3 linked regions of the Homo sapiens genome follow. The main gene of each other region encodes a partner of the protein of the gene in region 3 in a complex. Each region holds a gene or a part of one and is shown on either strand. Other genes may lie near its edges. The genes, in order: UBE2J1, FAM8A1 and HERPUD1.

Region 1 (7,395 bases), on a different chromosome or scaffold from region 3:
CTCCTGAAATATATTAGAAAAGTGTTAAAATAGAATGAACAAGCAAGACCTATCTTGAACATAGGAGAAACTGAGAAGAAAAAAAAAAAAACAGAAGCATTTTCTCTCCTAGATCTTTCAGCTGGCTGCCAGATGGTAAGCAAAAGCATAACTATTAGACCTGCAATTGCACTAAGGTGAGGCACCCAAAAACTGAGAGCTCCTTCCTGCCTGACATTTTTGTTCAGGTAACCAGAGTTTAAACTTGTGTCCCTGGTAATAACACAACTAACATCTCCATTACATTAATACCAGCTACATCCCCATGGGAAAATGTTCCATGTTTCTTATTAACCAATCCCAAGGGGAAATCCTGGGGGTAAAACAAGAGAAAAAACTATAGCAGGTGGTTTTTTTTTTTTTCTGAAAAAAAAAAAATTATAAAGTATTCAAGGTAATTAACAAAATGTTTACAATAAAGTCTACACTTGATCTTAGCCAAAAGACTGAGAAGCGATGCAATAAAATTTATATATGGCTTTCTGAGGTTTTTTTTTTTTTAAATTTTACTCTAGGAAGACATTGATGTAAAATAAGCTGATTCACACTATCAGTTTAAGTGATAATAACAATGCAACTGGCAAAACAAGTAATCCAGTTAGCTAATGGCAGATATTTTAAGTATAGAAAAGTATATGTGGTATAATGGGATATCAGTTCTTAAAATATCTATGCCTTATAAACAAAACCTCAAGGTAAATATACCAAAATCTGTATCATGTCCTTTTCTAAGCAGGAGGATTATGGGAGATTTGGATTTTGTTCATATTCCACATATTGAACCACTGTATTACTTTTATGATCAAGAAGAAAATCATTTAAAAAAAAGTTTCTAGTGCTAAAGAATAAGTAAAATGTGTGAACCAAGAATAGCTCGGAGGTTGTAAGAAGCATATACTTTTTTCAAATAGTGGAAAACTCAAATGTCACAAAACAGCCTGATTCTTTTTAGTGTAGCAAAAAAACCCAAGTTTCAGAGTCAGAAGACCTGGACTTGAATCAGGGTTCTTTCATTTTCTAGATAAGTCACTGAAGTTTTTTTTGAATAAGTCATTGAAGCTTTAAGAACCTTTATAAAATATATTTCAAAGTATTCAAACCAAATCAAGAAATAGATGAAAATCTAGAAAAATTTCCTCTCATTAACATAAAAAATCATATGCCAGAAAGATAATAATCTGTAGTTGAAAAAACTGAGAAGTAGACACTTGATTTCTCTGAGACCTAAATTATCTTCATCTGTAAAATGGGTATAAATAATCAGTGCCACTTCCAAGGCTGTTATGAAGAATAAATGAGTTGATGTTATGTCAAGTGCCTGATAAACAGTAGATGCTAAAAAACTATAGTCCAGACCTTGCACAAGGATGCAAATGGCGGTGGAGAAAGGGCCTGCACTTCAAAGGACTTCTGGTTCCTAACTAAGGAAAAGATGAATTACACAGGTCAAGGATTGTGGTTCTAAGATGTTTTCTAAGATTCTGAAACATTTTAAACCTCATCTTTTGTCATTTTTATTAGTTACGAAGTCGGCTTTAAGGATTAAAAAAAAAAATCTTAAAATGAAAAAAAAAAGGAGTTTTCCTTAGGATCATCAAAAGTAAAGAAAAAATTACCCCAAATTTGATCTTGGATTAAAACTTTACCTGATATAATTTGTAAATTTTTCTTGAAAGAAATAAGTGTTCTAGTTTAAAAAAATAAGCAATTTTTGGATAAGAAATTTTCCAAGGAAATGAGCTCCCTTCCCACCCAGCTGTCAGTCAAGAATTTAGTAACCTTTAAATAAAATTACTCTTCTCTTTGTATCTGTCTTTTTGAGACAGGGTCTCGCTCTATCACCCAGGCTGGAGTGCAGTGGCACCATCATGACTCACTGCAGCCTGCTCCTCCTCTTCCATCCCCCAGAGCTCAACTGATCCTCCCTTCTCAGCCTCCAGAGTAGCTGGGACCACAGGTACGTATGCCCGGCTAATTTTTGAGTGTGTGTATATTTTTAGTAGAGATGGGTGTCACCATGTTGCTCAGGCTGATCTCGAATTCCTGAGCTCAAGTGATCTGCCCACCTTGGCCTTTTTTTTTTTTTTTTTTTTTTGAGATGGAGTCTCATTCTGTCTCCCAGGTTGATCTCGGCTCACTGCAACCTCCGCCTTCTGGGTTCAAGTGATTCTCCTACCTCAGCCTCCCGAGAAGCTGGGATTACAGGCATGCACCACCACACCCAGCTAATTTTTGTATTTTTAGTAGAGACAGGTTTTTGCCATGTTGGCCAGGCTGGTCTCCAACTCCTGACCTCAGGTGACCTGCCCGCCTTGGCCTCCCAAAGTGCTGGGATTACAGGCATGAGCCACCACACCTGCCAGCCACTTCTCTTTTCTCTGTAAATGTCTCTGCTGAGAGAAATTTTGGAATTGGCTTTGATCTTGGAGCATGATTGTAATTAAGCTTTGATATGTGCCCATAATTAAATTGTTATGGGCACATGTCCACAATAAATTGTTGTTATTGTTGTTAACCAAGGAAGGAGAGATTGTTATTCCTACTGAACCAGTCCTATGGGAGAAGAGCCCCAGGGAGCAGTGGAGGTGGTGGTGGCTAAAGGAGAGCCCCAGAGGACAACTGCACCCAGAGATTGATGGACCTTGGAGGCTGAATAGCAAAAGGCTTCTAGTACTCAGCTATCAAATAGGAACGCATTATATACAGCACCTGCTTTGCAGGCCTTGCTGTGGTAGGGCCTACTGCACAAATTAGGGGCTTTTGTAGAGCTGTGGCAGGAGAGGGTGTCAAGTGTCAGTTAATCTGAAGATTCAACACAATGAATGAATGAAGCAGCATTGGAGTTTGGTTTTGTTTGCATATCTCAGTCAGTCAGATTATCAGTTTACTATACAGAAAACAACATCAGGGAATGATTTAAAATATACCATCTAATTTTAGATATCCTTCACTTTTTTACTCCCAATTTCATCAAGAAACTCACAGATTTAGATTAACTTTAACAATAGAAAACAAATCAAATTTAAGAGTTTATGTCTTTATATAACAGAATAAAACTTGCCCAACCTGATTAACCCTTTCTATCCTCCCCACCTTCCCAATCCCTCCCTCCTTTCCTTTAGTAAGGTCCCTACTCCTTAAGTCTTTTGAACTCAGTCCTCTCTCGATCCCACACATTGGACAATGAAGCAGTAAGTGTGTCCTTTGAAGTTTAACCTTTCATATTTGTATGCTTTCCCTCACATTAAATGTAATTCCTTTTTTTGACAGCTTTTACATCTAAACAAACCAAAAAAAACAAAACTCCTGCAATGCCTAAAACATGTCGTGCACCTAACACACTACCCGAGAAAAAAATTGTTATGAATATCCAACTCTGGCCAGAGCCGTGGCTCACGCCTGTAACCCCAGCACTTTGGAAGGCCGAGGCGGGCGGATCGCTTGAGTCCAGGAGTTCGAGACGAGCCTGGCCAACACGGTGAAACCGTGTCTCTAACAAAAATACAAAAAATTAACCGGGCATGGTGGCACACACCTGTGGTCCCAGCCACGCTGGAGGCTGAGGTGGGAGGATCGCTTGGGCCCGGGAGGTAGAGGCTGCAGTGAGCCAAGATCGCGCCACTGCATCCCAGCCTGGGCGACAGAGCGGTGACACCGTCACACACACACACAAAATAAAAAATAAAAAAAATCCTATTCCATTTCCTTGTCACTGGCTTTCCCCCTCCTCACTTAACCCCCGCCCCTCGCAACAGCAACTGAATCTAAAAACAAAGCCTTTCCCAGACCCTGCGGGACCGCGCGCGGGCAGCCGGCTGCGGACAGCTTTGCAGCCGGAGCCCGGCGCCCCCTCCGAGCTCTCGAGGGCCCGGGGGTCCCGGACCTCGCCTACAGCGGGCAGGGCCGGGACGAGAGGACGAGGACGCCGCTCGCTCCTGCACCTCCCCAAGCCGGCTTCGCCGGGCGGGCGGCGGCTGGGTAGTGACCGACCGCCACGAAGCTACTGCCACGTCAGGGCAACTTCACAAATCCCGGACGAGGGCGGGTGACGCAAGCCGGGCGGCCGCGGCAGGGCTGGGCCTGCGACTACCCGAGGAGGCTGACCTCCAGCCCGGGCGCCCGGTTCAGCGCCGCCCCGGCCGGCGCCGGTGCCTGCCAGGCACTCAGGGAGGCGGGGGCGCAGTGGAGGAGGCGGCGCCATCGCGAAGCGAGCGCCTCGCCCGCACTCAGCCTTGCCACCCCGCCCGCAGTCCAGGCTGGACTGGGCGGCATTTGCCGAGGCTCCTCGGCCAGGCCCCGTCCGCCCGAGCCGCGCTGAGACCCGGGCAGCGGCCGCGTGGAGAGGAGGTGGCAGCGGCCCGGGAGGCCGGAGCCAAGCCAGCGACCCACCATGGAGACCCGCTACAACCTGAAGAGTCCGGGTGAGCAGGGCTGGGGCCCCTGGGCGAGGAGGGCGGAGTGACCCTGGACCCCGGGGTGGTCGCCGCCTCGGTCCCCTCGCGTCTGGCGCCACTCGCGGCTCAGCTCCTGGTTTCGCGCTCTACGCGAGACCGCCGCCTGCCCGGGAAGTACAGGCCGCAGGGCGAGGTGGCCGGGTGGACGTCCGCTGCCAATCCCCCGGCCGGCCAGCGCGCCCCGCAGCACCCAGCCTCTCCCTTTTCTCATCTTCGCCTGGTCCCGTAGAGCTGGGTCAGAAACTCATCCCTGAGAACAGGTGTAAAGGTGATGTCGGTGGGCGATAGTCATCAACCCCCTCGCTGTACCTGGTCGCTATTCCCTCCCTGTCGCTGCCACCGGACTTCTATTTACTTCTATTTACTGCCGGCTGATTTACTCACATTTGAGGAGTTGGTCGTTTAAATATCCTATTTGCAGCACTTGGGCGAATACAATTACAGACATAAAGGAAATGTTCTGTAACTAAACCAGTTAACTATAGAGCTAAAGCAAAACAAAACAACAACAAAAAAACACCTCGTTGAGCCCTGTTCTTGAGAGCTAACCTTGATTTTTGCCAGACTGGCTAATATGAAATGTATCTGTATTCAGTCGTAGCGATTCCTTTCCTGCATTTAATGATCCTGCTTTATATTTACACAAGCAGTCCCAGCAATCCTAGCCTCTAATTACTTTCTGGTGCATTATAAAGATAAGCAACTAGCTTTCTCAGCTTAATAAAACAGGCTTGAAATGAATCATTGGATCCTCTAAATGGTATTTTTTCTATCTGTACCTTGATACATTTTGTCAGGGGGAAGAAACTCCACAGTTAACTCTGCATGATAAACTCTAGGATATTAGTGATGATTTCACCAACTTTTGCTGTTGCTTAAAATTTCCTTCCAAAAAAAGCTGTTTCTCAGTAGGAATTAGCAAGACTAGCATCCTTGTGGAAAGAGTTGACACTGTGAATCTTTGGGTTTTTTGTAAGGTTTCAGAATATGCAAAAACCCCAGAAAAGCCTGAGGATATTGATTGGAGGGAGCTTTGTTAGCCTGAGTGCTGTCAGGCTAAGAAATGTCCTTAGGTGACCAAGTGTGTAGAACTGGTCATAATATTTTAGGAGCCACTGACTCCTTAAAAAAATCTGATGAAGACCTGGCACGGTGGCACACGCTTGTAATCCCAGCACTTTGGGAGGCTTGAGCCCAGGAGGTGGAGAGCAGCCTGGCCAACATGGTGAAACCCCGTCTCTACTAAAAACACAAAAATCAGCCGGGCATGGTGGTGGCGCACTCCTGTAGTTCCAGCCACTCGGGAGGCTGAGGCAGGAGGATGGCTTGACCCGGGGAGGAGGTTGCAGTGAGCCGAGATCGCGCCACTGCACTCCAGTGTGGGCGACAGAGCGAGACTCCATCTCAAAAAAAAAAAAAAAAAAAAAAAAAAAAAAGAGAATCCCGGGGTGGGGAGGGAGGAAGAAAAGACCAAAGAGAAAGAGGGAAAGAAAAGCTTAATTTTTAAGCTAGATGGTAAAATGATTGAATTATTTACATTGTGGTATATTTAACTGGAGCTGTTTGGGTAAAAATGTATGGTGGCTCCCTGGTCACACGGTTCCTTAGGACAGCAGAGGTGCTTAGTGAAAGGTCCAGAGGATAATGCACATGTGAGTAGTAGTGCAGTTTAGAATGGAGAACTGGTGGAACCCAAGAGATTGTTGTCAGAAAACATCGCTCAATTTCGATAGGTTAGACTTAATACTATGATGATAAGCTTTTAAAAATCTCCAGAATTTTGTATATTTCCAAAGTATGTGAACTATTGTCAGCTGGTTGAGCTTTGGTTGACATGCTTCTAGCTGTGTCATAAATTGCTTCCTTTTTCTGGTTTCATTTCCTCAAAGATAGTGTTGCTGCTCTAAAAAAAAAAACACAATGCTTCTTAAAAATCTATTTTTGTTAGTGTGTGAATTATTTGGAGTTCATGGAGAAGTTGAATTAGGTAAGATATGGGACTTACTGAAAATGCTGGGAGGCATTGTGAAAATACTTCCTTCCTTTGCTTTATTCTCAGTCCTGTGGTATTTTTAGAGTAATGCCTGTGTGAAGGGGAGCAACTGAAAACTCCAATTTCCTGTGTATGGCAGGGTGCACACACACACACACGTAAAATACCAACATACCAGACAAACAAAAAACAACCACACAATGTGAGGGATATAATCTTTTACTCTTTATCTGATGTGGGATTGTCTTTGATGTATGAGTGGAAAGATTAAGTGAAGACAATACAGATAGCTGGTTAAGGGCCAGTGTACTAGCATGTGGATATAGTAAATTTTTTCATTTCATAGGTGGGGAAACTTTTTGCTTTATGGTTTTTTTTTGGAATGGACTTGTGATTATGGATAGAGCTGTTGTGTAGGATCACCTCACAGTAGTTGTCTGTGGTAGTTGTCAGTAGTTGTCTATGGATCTGCTACTGTAGTAGCAGTAGTTGTCTATGGATCATGCTACTTGTCTATAATCTGTCAATAGTTGTCTATGGATCAAGCTACTTGACCCGTGTTTGGGTCTGCTCTGGCCAAGGAAGTAGGGTCTTATAGTACAAAGTGAAGAAATGTGTATAAAGCACCTCCTTTGGCAGCTTCTTCATCAGGGGGCCATTGACATGTGCAGCAGGTGGTGGGAGTATAAGAGACTGGTGCAAAAGTACCCACTGCCTCCACCAGAAGTCTAAGAGTTACCTATCCATGCCATTGGTGTCAACTGCACCTTCCCACTAATCCACTCAAGGTTTCATGTCCAACTCAGGCCCTTCTCGTAAGCTATAGATACACAGAACTTATGGTGACTCAACATCTTCATTTCCCATAGAGTGAAAAAAATCTCTGTAAGTATAAAGACAAAACTCATC
Region 2 (7,166 bases), on a different chromosome or scaffold from region 3:
AATCCATGGTTGGATCTGACTGAACCTACATAGATACTAATCTGAATAACTCATATATAGAAAATGTGCAATATTCTAAGTACAAAAAATTAAACTGGACTAGTTTGCTTTTGTTTTATAGTATAAATGAAAATAATCTCGATGGCAAACTATTCAATTATCTGAGCAGAAATTATGAATGAAAGATGTATTCCAGACCTATATGATTGAGGGACATTTCAACTTGAATTCCCCAGCGGCAAAAGTGGTGTATAAACTAATGCTAGTGTATACACTACTAAAGTGCCAAGTTACGTAACATCTCCTAATTTTAAAAATGAAAGATTTTTCTTTTTTTCACTGTGAAGGGCAGTAACACAATCTTCCCCATGGGTGCAACTGAATGATTTATTTAGTACATTGATGTACTTAATTATTAGTGTTTCTGGGAAGCTGGATTTGACATAAACTTATTTTGAAAAACACGGTTTATGAAATTTTGTACTAAAATTATTAATAGACATTAAGTTTCTATAATCAAATGTGAATATCTGTTGTCACAGTTTTAAACGTCAAAGAAAAACCTTTGAAAATTAATATAGTGATAATAGATATGTGCTGTGTTTGCTGTTAAATTTAAGACCAAGAACACCACCTAGATTGATCCCTTAAGTAATCAAATTTTGAACTGTGCAATGCAGTTTAGTGTGTCTTTGGAAAACAATGTCAGAGCTGGAGAAAATACCTAAGAATCAAAACTTAAACCATAAATAGTACAGGTATATCTCAGCACAGCTAACTGGGACATCTAGGAAAAGCACACACACATAATAAAACCCCACAATTTTGCTTCAACAGAAGAATAAAGCAAAATGGCAACATACACAGTATCACTTTGCGTAACATTTCCCCCCAAACTTTAGCAGACCCAAAATGAGCTTAAAGACCCTAGAATGATGTCTGGGAATGCTAGTCTCTCTTGCTTTAGAGAGAATAGTCCATAATGGGAAAATTGCTAATATTTCGCAAGCTATTAATTAATAGTACTTAGAGTTAATCATGAAATATTAAGATTTTTTTAACTCCTTGATGTTTCAACAGTCATAGAACTATATAAAATATAAGGAAAGTAGTATGTGAATATGCTGTATATAAATAGAATTTACACTGAGAACACTGAGAAGCACTAATACTTTCTTCATGCTGCACACATACTGGGAATACTTTTACAGTAAATATGCAACTGTTTGATGGAGGTGATTTCTCCCCACATTTATAGTTTGATTCAGGGCACTGAAAACACTTGCACATAAATTATAAGTTCAATTTACAGTGAAAACTTACTCCCCCACCATTAACAGTAATCACTAACTTACCTTTTAAAAAAAAAAACCAATTAACATAGCAATATGACTTGATACTTTTTCATCATCATGAGAAACTTGCCCCTAAATACATGTTCAAGCATTAAGAATAGTTGTAAAGTTACATCATTACGAGAGGGAACTGCAGTATGGATTTGAAAACTTCAGGTAAGGGAACTGCTAGGCCTGCCTCACTTGTCCCTTTCTCTTGTAGCCAACTCACCACCTCCTGGGATGGGAGACAGTGGATTATCCAATTTGTGTTCTCATTCCCTCCTCTAAACACCAAAGACAATTTCCCCAGGAAGTGTAAACTAAAAGATGAGTTACATAGGTGTTTACAAAACACAACTGGACATTTTCCATTATTTTGGGATAAACCAAAATAAATTTTAAAGTTTCATTTGGAGATTTCAAAGCTGAAAATGCTTTCAGCAAATTCTTAGATCTTAAGAAAGTACCTTAGATCTTAAGAAAGTATATATTGTCCATTGTTTATAAAATCATTTGCCTTTTTGATCTAAAAATTTTAATACTTGAATTTAACAGGTTTTTCTTCTGGACAAGTTCTTTGGCATTCAAGTATAATCAATACTTTCAGAGTAGTCACCTGCATCACACTGGAGTGACTGCTTTAATTTCTAAATCATCAATTAGTGTAACCCAGGGATACTGATGGCCTTGATACATAATTTAGTCTTAGTGTGTGGAAATCAGGGTTTTGGGGGGCATCATCTGACCCCATTTCTTTTTACCACAATGGTTCCTGCTACAATGTCATAAGCTGTTCGATTATGCTGAAAAAACAGCAGTGTGATGAAAGCAGGGAAAAAAGAAGCAATTGAAAAATTCTTGATCAAAGCTCGGATAGTGGACCTAAAAAGTTAAAACAAAAATATCAGGTAAGTTACACATCAAACCACATATAGATTAATGGTATCCCATCAAGTTCAAAATAGACATTTAAAACACAATTGTACTTCTCTACAGAAGTCTACAGGGAAAAAGACATTCAAGGTATAGTTGAGAGAATTTTTACCTTTGATATATTTTCAAGTAGCACTGTATCATGATCAAACCACCTGGGCTATTTCTAATAAGACTTCAACAACATAAAAAGCAGTAATAAACATGTCTCAGAATATTGAATTAATGGTTTACAGAGCTTTCTAGTATTTTCTCAGAAGAAATGAACATTAATTCTGAGTACTTTCTGAGTATGCTTACTGTAGTCCCATTTGTCTACCTTATAGAAAAAACATGCATTTTAAAGTACTGTGTGTTCTTTAATCAGCATTTTCCTTTGTGGGATCCAGTGATTAAGCAAAGCTTTTAAAAGCTTTCAACAATCACTCAGGATGGAGAATTATCCTACTTATGTTAGATTTCTGCCTTTTAGTGCACTGAAGGGCTGCAGAAAAGTACAGTGGCTAGGAGTGTGGGTTCTGAATCCAGACTAGTTAAATTCAGATCCATCGTCTACCAATTACTAGTTGTATTCCACATCTGCAAAAAGGGAACAATAGTATCTATCTTATGATACTATAGATAGTATATAGATACTACCTATAGTATATAGATACTACCTATAGTATATAGATAGAGACTACCTATAGTATCTTATGATACTATAGATATAGATCAATAGTCTCTATCTTATGAGGTTGTTAGCATTAAATTAATACATATGCAGTGTTATTAACAGTGCAGGTATATAAAAAGTACTCAATAAACATTAGCCATTACTGACTCTTATTAAAAGAAGTAGGTAGGTTTATAACTACCAGTTTTGTTTTGTTTTTTTTTTTTTTTGAGATGGAGTCTTGCTCTGTCGCCCAGGTTGGAGTGCAGTGGTGCAATCTCAGCTCACTGCAAGCTCTGCCTCCCGGGTTCATGCCATTCTCCTGCCTCAGCCTCCTGAGTAGCTGGGACTACAGGGCCCGCCACCACGCCCGGCTAATTTTTTGTATTTTTAGTAGAGACGGGGTTTCACCATGTTAGCCAGGATGGTCTCGATCTCCTGACCTCGTGATCTGCCCACCTCAGCCTCACAAAGTGCTGGGATTACAGGCGTGAGCCACTGTGCCCGGCTATAACTACCAAATTTTAAGAAAAATTTGAAGATGGCAAAACCAAGGTTTCTAGAATCACTTGTTTATATTTCTTGATGTAACAATCCAGCTCTGAATCATTCTGGCAAAAATTGCAGCCAATACCTTGTTTGGCTCAACTGACTACCAGCCACTGACCTCCACAGTTTCCATTATCACTGGTTGTACCTTCCCCCAGCGCTAGATGCCAACAGCTAACCTTGAATACTGGCAGTATTACAAGCTCTCACCTAACAGCAGGAGAAGGATGCACGAATGCATAGCTGTCAAAACTCTGCTGCCTATTCAAGATGGAATAATGACAGGCATGGCCAAATGGAGACTCAAGGCAGACTAGTACCTGACCTAACATCCACAGGTCCAAAGAATAATAAAGCTGATTGTGGAGCACTAATACACCATCAACACCCAAATCATCCTCTCGTATTGTGACTTATAATTCATAAAATGATCATCTTGAGGCAGGGCATGGTGGCTCACGTCTGTAATCCCAACACTTTGAGAGGCGGAGGCGGGTGGATCATGAGGTCAGGAGATCAAGACCATCCTGGTTAACACGGTGAAACCCCGTCCCTACTAAAAATACAAAAAATTAGCCGGGCGTGGTGGCGGGCACCTGTAGTCCCACCTACTCGGGAGGCTGAGGCAGGAGAATGGCGTGAACCTGGGAGGCGGAGCCTGCAGTGAGCCGAGACTGTGCCACTGCACTCCAGCCTGGGCAACAGAGTGAGACTCCGTCTCACAAAAAAAAAAAAAAAAAAATCATCTTGAAAATGTGTACTGTAAAAGAGGTCTACAATCATGTAACACAACTGAAATAAATATTCAAACTTTGTTTTAACTTAATAAATATAAGCCTATCTACTATGAAGAAAAAAACCCCAATATTCTAAAACACATTATTTTCATTAAGTATGTAGTAGATTAAGCTAAGAAAAGGACTTACGTTGTAATGCTAACATTTGAGGAAGGAATCACTAAAACCCGACTTGGTGCAATAAGCACTGATGTATCACATGTCACAACTCGAAGCCCCAGCAGGAACTTCCCTGGGGTAGCTCCACCTGCTCCCCAAATGCAAATTATCTAAGGAAAGAAGGATGATTTAAAAATTACTGGCTCAACTATACCAATTTTAAAGATAAACTTTTCCCACCATATTATTTCATGTTTTAAATTTTTCAAGTTGAAAGAATTGCATAGAATACTCAAAAGTTAACCATTTAACTTTATGCATTTCTGTAGGTCTCTAACATGTCCAATACCACAAGATGTCTGTCTCCTGTAATATTTCTCTATGACTACTATACTTTCTAGTAAGCTGCTTCTGCAGAAAACTACATTGCAATTTACAAGTATATTTTTGGACCACAATCTATAAGTGAAATTTTATTTGAGTTTCTAAGACTGAAAAATATTACAAAGAAATTGTAAAATGTCTCTCTTCCAAAAGTTTTTACTTAATGATTAGTTAAAATTTGGGAAAAAAAACAGAAAAGTAGACATGTGGAAAAGACATGAATAATTATAAATTTCGATTACTTTTTCGTCTTGGGCTGATAATCTAAAATTAGATTGTTGGCTAGGTGCAGTGGCTCATGCCTGTAATCCCAGCACTTTGGGAGGCCAAGGTGGGCAGATCACTGAGGCCAGGAGTTTGAGACCAGCCTGGCCTACATGGCAAAACCCTGTCTCTACTAAAAATACAAAAATTAGCCAGGTGTGGTGGTATGCACCTGTAGTCCCACCTACTCAGGAGGCTGAGACAGGAGAATCACTTGAACTCAGGAGGCAGAGGTTGCAGTGAGCCAAGATCACACCACTGCACTCCAGCCTGGGTGACAGAGCGAGACTCTGTCTCAAAAAAATAAATGTAAAAACATAAAATTAGATTGTTAAATATTAATTCTTGCTGAAGTCAGTAGCTTACCTCATAGAAACAAACTAATAATCTGTATATAAGTGCCACAACCATCATTTTCTGCAAGTCTTCCATTGATGTGTCTTCATCTATTTCTTCTATTATATAATGCATAGCAAACTTAGAGATATCCCTACACAAAATAATAGTTTGGGGTTATAAATAATTAGTTACCAGAACAGTAGCACTGACTTTTTTTTCATTAGTGCAAGTCATACATTTTAATTGAAATTCTAAACTAATCTTTAGATTCCCAACCATCTAGTATCATAAAGCATTCATTAGTTTATTCAACAAATAAGCAGCATTATCATGAGCAGACACTGTACTAGCACGGGGGAAATAAGGGTGAATGAATTTACACGGTCCCTGCTTTCGTGGAGGGTCTAACCTAGCAAAGAAAACAGAACAATAAATAAATAGCAATAATAAAGTGGGATGAGTGCTGTGATGGGGAACCTAGGATACTATGGAAACATACACCAGATACACTTAACCTTGTGAAGGTTTCCCAGAAAAGACAGTTAGATGAGGCTCTGAAGGATGAAGAGAAGTTAGCCAGACTAAGAAGAGGAAATAACGTTCCAGAAAGAGGGAACAGCAGGAGAGAATGTCTTGGAGAAAGAGAGAATATGATAGAAGCTGTAAGCAGTTTGGTGTGGCTCATATACTAAATGTGAGAGGTGGCAGTGATTAAGAAATAAAGGCAGGGTGTGGTGGTATGCACCTGCAGTCCCACCTACTTGGGAGGTTGAGACAGCCTCCTGAGTATAAACCACATGATGAAATTCAGACTTTATCCTGCTGGTAAAGAGAAACCATTGAAGGGGCTGAGCATGGTGGCTCACGCATGTAATCCCAGCACTTTGGGAGGCTGAGGTGGGAGGATCGCCTGAGCCTAGGATTTTGAAAGCAACCTGGGCAACACAGACCCCATCTCTAAAAAAACAATAAACATTTTAAAAAGAGAAACCATTGAAGGGTTTTAAGGTAGGAAAGGAACAGAACCAGGATTTATGATCACTTTGGTTTTATATCAGAGACTGGATTGAGATAAAACAGGAGACTGAGTTACCACTAGAAGGCTTCTGCTATAATCCAAGCAAGAGACGACAGTAATCGGAGTAGGGAGAAGCAATGATGATAAAAAATGGGCCAGGTGTGGTGGCTCATGCTTGTAATCTCAGCACTTTGGGAAGCTAAGGCAGGAGGATCATTTGAGCCCAGGAGTTTGAGACCAGCCTGGGCAACATAGGGAGACCCCATCTCTACAAAAAACAATTTTTTTTTTTAATTAGCTAGGCATGGTGGAGCATGCCTGTGGTCCCAGCTCCTTGTGAGGCTGAGGTGGGAGTGTCACTTGGGCACAGGAGATCAAGGCTGCAGTGAGCCATAATTGTACTACTGCACTCCAGCCTGGGTGACAGAGCAAGACTCTGTCTCAAAAAAAGAAAAATGATCTGGCAGTGAGGAGGTCTGGGGTTGAAAGCTATTCAGAAAATTGAACATAAAGGAGTTGGTATTTCACTGGATGTGGAGTGGAGTGAGAGGGAGGGACAGGGAGGAATCACAGTAACAGGTTTCTGGCAAGGACCCTGAAATTTGACTGCACAGGCTTGTATCTTGACTCTGTCACTTACTACCTTTGTAACATTTTAGGTTCTGTGCTCAACTTTTCATAAACCCAAATTTCAAACTCTATAAAATGGTGGTATTAATCTCTACACCTCATCTTGGTATTAAGATTAAATAAGAATCCACATAAAGAAGTGAGCAAGCTCAATACATGGC
Region 3 (7,000 bases):
AACGTGATGCCTTCAAAGGAAGCACATAAAAGTCCATCTTAGCTGATGTCACAGTGAGACTTACTCAAGAATCCAAGGCTCCCCACCTCTAATCACAGCAGCACCCTGATAAGCTCACTGCAAGACCCATCTACAGAGGCATTTGATCACACTGTCTCCCAGACATTCTCACCAGTCTGTAAGGTCCTTGAAGGCAGGGACTGTGTTTTATTCATCATTGCACACCCAGCCATATAAACAGCACCTGGCACATAGTATGCACTCAATAAATGCTTATGACGAACTAAACCTTACCCTTGAAAACCTGAACAGAGCGGGGAGAATGCATATACCTACAAAGCTATAATTATATATAACATAATGACAACCTACATTTGGTCTTTTAAATATATGATTCTAGAGACTACAGAAAATATTAACTAAACGTTTTATTTGAAGAAACCAATTAAATCCCAAGTCTTAAATATAATAAAATATTAACAATGACTAATTGTGGATATTTGAGTGTTCATTATATTCTAATTATTCCTTTTTTATTTTTAAAAGCTAAAATAAAAATCCATTTTTACTATACAGGAAAATTTCTTCTTTTAGTTTCAACCACGAAGACCCATCACTCTAGGCCAGGCTTTCTCAGCTTTGGCACTAGTGACATATTGAGCCAAATATTTACTGTGGGAGTTGTCCTGTGCATTGTAGAAAATTCAGCAGCACTCTTGCTTCTACTAACTAGACGCCAGCAGGACCACTTCCCCTAGATGTGACAACCAAAAATATCTACACATTGCCAAATGTCCCCTGGGGAGAGAGGGTACAAAACCACCCCCAGTTGAGAACTACTGCTTCGGGCCACAGCTAAAACCAAATGTCAGGTATGTGAAGGTTCCCTTGCCTTTCAGGGCCATGCTAACAGTCAGTGCCTGACTTTACCCTGGAAGGCAGCTGTGGTCTGATAAAGGCAAATGTGTTCTCATTCAAAACAAATACAGTTTTCTGTTCCATGCCTCAGTATGGCTACATACTTGTGGTTTGTGAGCCTGGAAGGTAAGGTAGCTTATCTAGAGGACAAGATAATATTCTTATATTAACACAGGATTGATATGTTCTTGGGACCATACAACCAAGCCATGAATTCCTTGTATCGAAAGTGCCAGAATACATACTATTTATTATGTATTTATTCTAAGACAGGGTCTTGCTCTGTCACCCAGGCTGGAGTGCAGTGGTGCGATCTTGGCTCACTGCAACCTCTGCCTCCCCAGTTCAAGCAATTCTCCTGCCTTAGCCACCCAAGTAAATTACAGGCCCGTGCCACCACACCCGGCTAATTTTTTGTATTTTTAGTAGAGACGGGGTTTCACCATATTGGCCAGGATGGTCTCAAACTCCTGGCCTCATGTGATCCTCCTGCCTCGGCCTCCCAAACTGCTGGGATTACAGGTGTGAGCCACTGCGCCCAGCCACAGAGTGATATACTATTTAAACACATCTCCTTCTACAGTAACTGAGACTGCTCAAAAAAGAGCAAAATCTGGCCAGGCGCAGTGGTGGCTCACGCCTGTAATACCAGCACTTTGGGAGGCCAAGGTGGGCAGATCACTTGAGGTCAGGAGTTCGAGACCACCTGGCCAACATGACCAAACCCCGTCTCTACTAGAAATATAAAAATTAGCCAGGCATGGTGGTGGGCGCCTGTAATCCCAACTACCCAGGAGGCTGAGGCAGGAGAATCGCTTGAACCTGGGAAGCGGAGATTGCAGTGATTGTGCCATTGTACTCCAGCCTGAATGACAGAGCGAGACTCCATCTCAAAAAAAACAAGAAACAAAAAGAGCAAAATCTGCTTAGTGTGAACACAGTGTAGTGTAATTTATATTAGAGAAACCATCTGCTTACAGGTACATAACAACGGTGGCCCCCATGACCATGAGGAATCTGCTCAGGGAGGAGTAGAAGTAGAGGATACTGAGAAAAACAGAAAATGTAGCTGCTGAATAGGTCCAATCCAACCAATCTCGATTTATTTCATCATCTTCTTCCACAATAGGGCCACCTTGTGCATTCATCCGCAAATTTTGATTGGCTCCAGGATTAACAACCACTTGAGGAGCAGCATTCTGATTGGCAGGCTGGTTTTCAGCTGGAAACTGGTTGTGAATAGGGGCTGGAGCAGGTGCAGAGACCACAGGTATCTCTTGTGCACTTGGTGGTGGAACAAAAGCCCCTGATGCAGCAGTGGCTGCTAAACTAAAATAAAAACGACAGAGGCAGATACTGTTGAGACCAAAGCACCGTGAAGTCTGTGGCTTATTTACACAGCAGTCTTTTACTGTTAAGAATTTCAAGTAGGTAGATATGCCTTTGATTTTTCTTCAATTTAGTGAAGAACTTCCTTACTAACTATATCTATAAATGCCTTTTCTAAGAAAAGCCACAAGGTGAATTTCACCTGAAATTAAACATCAAGCCCACTGTAAGATTATGGCACAGTAGCAAATTAAAATCCTCACAAAACTTTGAAGATAGCACAAATTGAAAAGAAAGTAACATGTTCTAAATAAAGTCACTAAACTATGTATCAGACAAAAGCACCCTTGTGTCAATACACAAATCAGGTAGCAGCTGTCATTTACACTCTACCCACAGACCAAACAGAGCAGGGCTCTGCAGACTGATGAAAATACACTCATCCCTCCATTCTGAACTTTACAGGTAACATGGATAAAATTCCCTTCAATTCCCGGGAGCCCTGGCCACACCCAGCATGGCGGGAAGGACTCACTATTGCATGTAGTACTGTCGTGCATATATCTGCTGGAACCAGGAAAGCTGAAGCCACCCATAGGGTGTGTAACCGGAGAAACCAGGACCCAGGCCTTGGAATGCCTGCTGGGCAGCTTCAGGCCTATACATAGATTTGAAAAAACACTCATTTTGAGTGGGTTGAGTATGAACAAATGAAAACTAAGTTTAAATTAAAATCAAGAATTCAAATCGAAGAGACAGAAGAATGGAATTTACGGCAGTTACATGGTAAATGACTGTATGACGCACCCATGTACCACAAGCACAGAAGGTACTAAATGACACAGCACTTCTACCACAGTCCCATCCCACAGGAAAACAACAGCCCTTGCCACCTGCTTGCTGAGTGCACAGATATATAAACAACCTTTTTGGGTTAAGTAGATCCCACCTCAGTTTTGACTTGTTGAGTCTCACTGCAGGTCTCAACCCACTGTTCATCTTTTAGAGAGCAGCTCAAAAGCCACATTTCTCCCAGTCTTTCCTGAAGGAAATCTCTCCCATCCTCCCAATATCCACTTCTTCCTCCATCCTCCATCTGAATCTATAGTGAAGTGTGCATGTGGTATCACCTGTGCATGCTTACTGACCACCGGGGGTCCTGTACAGGCTGCTGGGTCCACAGCAATCTCATGAAGGAGATTTTACAAGGGGAACCCAAGTACAGCTCAGGGAAGACAGGGGCTTTGCACAAGGTCACTGAGCTAGTAAGTAGCAGGGCTGGATTTCAGAGCTGGTCTGATGTCAAATGCATGCTTCTTTTTTTTTTTTTTTGAGATGGAGTCTCGCTCTGTTGCCCAGCCTGGAGTGCAATGGCGCAATCTCGGCTCACTGCAAGCTCCACCTCCCGGATTCACACCATTCTCCTGCCTCAGCCTCCCCAGTAGCTGGGACTACGGGCACACGCCACCACACCTGGCTAATTTTTTGTACTTTTAGTACAGACGGGGTTTCACCGTGTTAGCCAGGATGGTCTCAATCTCCTGACCTCGTGATCCGCCCACCTTGGCCTCCCAAAGTGCTGGGATTACAGGTGTGAGCCACCGCGCCCGGCCAAATGCATGCTTCTTTAATCAGGCCACACAGCCCTCAACTTCACAGGGCAGGTGTATGCGAGTCATCTTTGGCTTTGTGCTTCTTACACAGTCAATTTCTTCAGTAGCACATCACAAAATTGAAACCATAATAGAATTGCCCAAAGATCAGAAATTGGTTATGTGGTCATTCCTGCAGGTCAACTCATATCCTTAAGCAAAGTTGTATGTACTGGCTGTTCAATAAATATTTGTTAAAGGAAATCAAGTTTAAATATGGTGAGATTCAGAGAGTCAAATATGAGCCTCAATTCTCAAGTTAAGAATAGTTGAATCAGAATAAGGGAAGTAGTTTTAAGTTTTTCTAACCAATAATTTTCTATCCAATAATTATCCAATTTATATGCTGACAATCTTTTAACTAAATTCCATACACAGAGTATTTCTAAAATAGTATTCCAATACAAGTAAGCTTTGGTATGATGCTGTTTTTGATCATTTAAGAAAATTACAGTGCATGGAAATAAAATGATAAAGTGCTTTTAAGATTTCTGTTAGATCTGATAATGGCATTCTAGATATACAAGATAACTAAAAGGTTTTCATAGTTATATACTGAAGAATATAGGGATGAAATAACATGATGCCTGGGAATTACTTTTAAATACTCTTTTTTTAAAAAAAAGGGAAAGGGTAATAGATGAGCTATGGTAAAACTCTGATTGTTATTTATTAGGCCTGGGTGATGGTGTGGGGATTAATTATCCAGTCCCCACTGTTGTGTATATTTGAAAGTTCCATTAAGGGGGAAAAGGAAGAAAAACTCATTCCTAAAACACCTGGCTTTATAAAATATTGTGTATAAAAAGTACTAGAAAAAGGGGGACGGAGAATTGGAGAGTTACAGAATTGCAACTTGCAGTTAATGAATTTTTCCCCAAAAACAATGTATTCCAAGAGCTATAAAAATCCAAATAACAGAGCATTTAGTTCTGACTTTTGCTCTAAAGAAAAGCTTTAATAGTTATAAGAAATTGGCCAATTTTCCTAGTACCCCCAAGTCTTTGGAAGGACACTTCTTAAACAGTCTCTCCCTTGTTGTCACCCATTGTTACAATAAAGCACAAAGCCACTCAGCAAAGCAGCTGCACAATGCTTACGACAGCTGTTTTCTCCTGCAGCAGCACTAATTTCCTATCATGACGGCAACCAAGCGGTCAGCACAATGGAAGGATAAAACGCCTACATTTTCTTTTTTTTTTCAATATATGCATTACCTACTTTTTAAATTTGTGTGTACTAAAAGGCTGTGTATTAAGAAAAGTTAAATATATAAGAGATCTTTAAAGCGAAGCTATTTATAAAGCAAAATTCTGTATGTTTAAAAGTTCTGATTATATACGTGTAAACATACCTTATTCTTAAATTGATGCAAACGAGGAACATTCATGTTGCATAAGCCAAGATCTTTATTATAACACTCACCTTGAGATGTTTTCCCATCCAGGGGAAGAAAGGTTCCGAAGAACTTCCCTTTGCCTTAAACCATCACTTGAGGAATCCTCAGGATACTGTCCCCGATTAGAACCAGCAGGCTCCTCTGTGGATTCAGCCACCTAAATAAGTGTAACATGAACACAGAACAAAGGAGCTGATGCAACTGTCTGAAATCAAGCAAAAGGAATTATTTTGCTGTCAAGGGCTTACATCTCCTACCCCCCACCTCTGAACGTGACAAAATTAAACAGAAGCAACGTTATGTAAAAAATAGTCTGACATTTATTCAACATAATTTTCAATACATAGATGCTAAAATATTCATATTTTTTCCCTAGAGTATGCTACACTTTCATTAAAATCTTCCAATGAAGTTGTCATTGGTGAGAAAGCTTCCTGATAATGGTGCTAAATTTACTCATTGCAGACATCTGACCAACAAGATTTATAAATACAACCCAGCCCACAACTTTCTAAAATAGTATTCCAATATAAGTAAGCCTTGGTATGATACTGTTTTTGATCATTTAAAAAAATTACAGTGCAGGGAAATGAAATGATAAAGTGCTTTTAAGATTTTTGTTAGAACTGATAATGGCAAAATAGGGAATTTCCTATGCTCTGTTCAGATGTTCTAGGAAATATAATGCAAATTTAGAGTGCATCACTACATTAGAATACTAATACCATATATGTGAATAAACATTGTGAAATGAAAAATAAATGGTTTCGTGTGTCATATATGTCTTTAGAGCCAGGTCTAGTGGCACATGCCTGTAGTCCCAGCTACTCAGGAGGCTGAGGTGGGAGGATCGCTTGCCCTCAGGAGTTTGAGAAAAGCCTGGGCCACACAGCGAGACCATTTTTAAAAAAAAAAAATTCTTTAAAGATCACTTGATAAAAACTCTGATCTTTTCCTATCCAACTAATCACAATGAAAATTTCCAAAGGAAATATATTCACTTTTGTACTCTTTATAAAAATTAGTGACTCCTTTGAAGAAACTTGCTATGTGCTAAATTCAATAAAAACCCGATTAGTGTTAGTTCAGTAATCTAGATACACAGTAACCATAGATCAAATCATATCCCATAAGATAGTGCAATATGTAACTCCACCTTTCTACTACAGCACTAACGGAACAATCTGCTACTATTAACTCATCACTTTGTGTTGATAATACAGTTTCTAATTCCTAGGAAAGAAACAAAATATTACTTGGTAATAACACCATACAGTCTCTCAATAAACGTTTTATCCAACTTCTTTTATTACTCCCCTGAAAGTCTGAATGATACAAATTGTTACCATCATGAAGAGGCAGACACACCTTGGCGTTGATTTCTGGCATTTTTGAAGGACTCTTCACATTGCACACCAGATGCAAAACATGCCGTTTTTCCTGCTAAAAGTAATACGAAGGTACTTAAGGACCTGAACCTAACCTGGTGAGTGCTTAAAAACATTCAGAAGTTAATGTGTAAGTGATGTACCTTTGGAAGCAAGTCCCTGAGACATTGGTGATCCAACAACAGCTTCCCAGAATAAATTAACCTCTGGTCCTCTGGACGCTGATCATGGAAAGAAAGAGTAACACAGGTCAGCATTTCACCCCTACAAGTTCCTAAACACAGAATAAACTGTTTTATACAAGTAATTTGAAT

Evidence for each region.
Region 1: HERPUD1 (region 3) and UBE2J1 share a complex: the UniProt entries of both Homo sapiens proteins name them as parts of the HRD1 complex.
Region 2: HERPUD1 (region 3) and FAM8A1 share a complex: the UniProt entries of both Homo sapiens proteins name them as parts of the HRD1 complex.

Annotation. Positions count from the first base shown.
Region 1 is NC_000006.12:89,349,604-89,356,998, reverse strand, and holds the start of UBE2J1 (ubiquitin-conjugating enzyme E2 J1), read left to right. Parts: upstream 1-4,276; 5' UTR 4,277-4,429; coding exon 4,430-4,460; intron 4,461-7,395. UniProt on the Homo sapiens protein: Catalyzes the covalent attachment of ubiquitin to other proteins. Functions in the selective degradation of misfolded membrane proteins from the endoplasmic reticulum (ERAD) and is essential for cells to recover from ER stress.
Region 2 is NC_000006.12:17,603,248-17,610,413, reverse strand, and holds part of FAM8A1 (protein FAM8A1), read right to left. Parts: intron 5,509-7,166; coding exon 5,385-5,508; intron 4,541-5,384; coding exon 4,401-4,540; intron 2,220-4,400; coding exon 2,075-2,219; 3' UTR 1-2,074. UniProt on the Homo sapiens protein: Plays a role in the assembly of the HRD1 complex, a complex involved in the ubiquitin-proteasome-dependent process of ER-associated degradation (ERAD).
Region 3 is NC_000016.10:56,935,142-56,942,141, reverse strand, and holds part of HERPUD1 (homocysteine-responsive endoplasmic reticulum-resident ubiquitin-like domain member 1 protein), read right to left. Parts: intron 6,908-7,000; coding exon 6,830-6,907; intron 6,742-6,829; coding exon 6,667-6,741; coding exon of another isoform or gene 6,665-6,666; exon of another isoform or gene 6,651-6,664; coding exon of another isoform or gene 6,645-6,650; intron 5,456-6,644; coding exon 5,325-5,455; intron 2,906-5,324; coding exon 2,783-2,905; intron 2,248-2,782; coding exon 1,897-2,247; exon of another isoform or gene 1,741-1,896; intron 1,277-1,740; exon of another isoform or gene 11-1,276; coding exon 1-10. UniProt on the Homo sapiens protein: Component of the endoplasmic reticulum quality control (ERQC) system also called ER-associated degradation (ERAD) involved in ubiquitin-dependent degradation of misfolded endoplasmic reticulum proteins.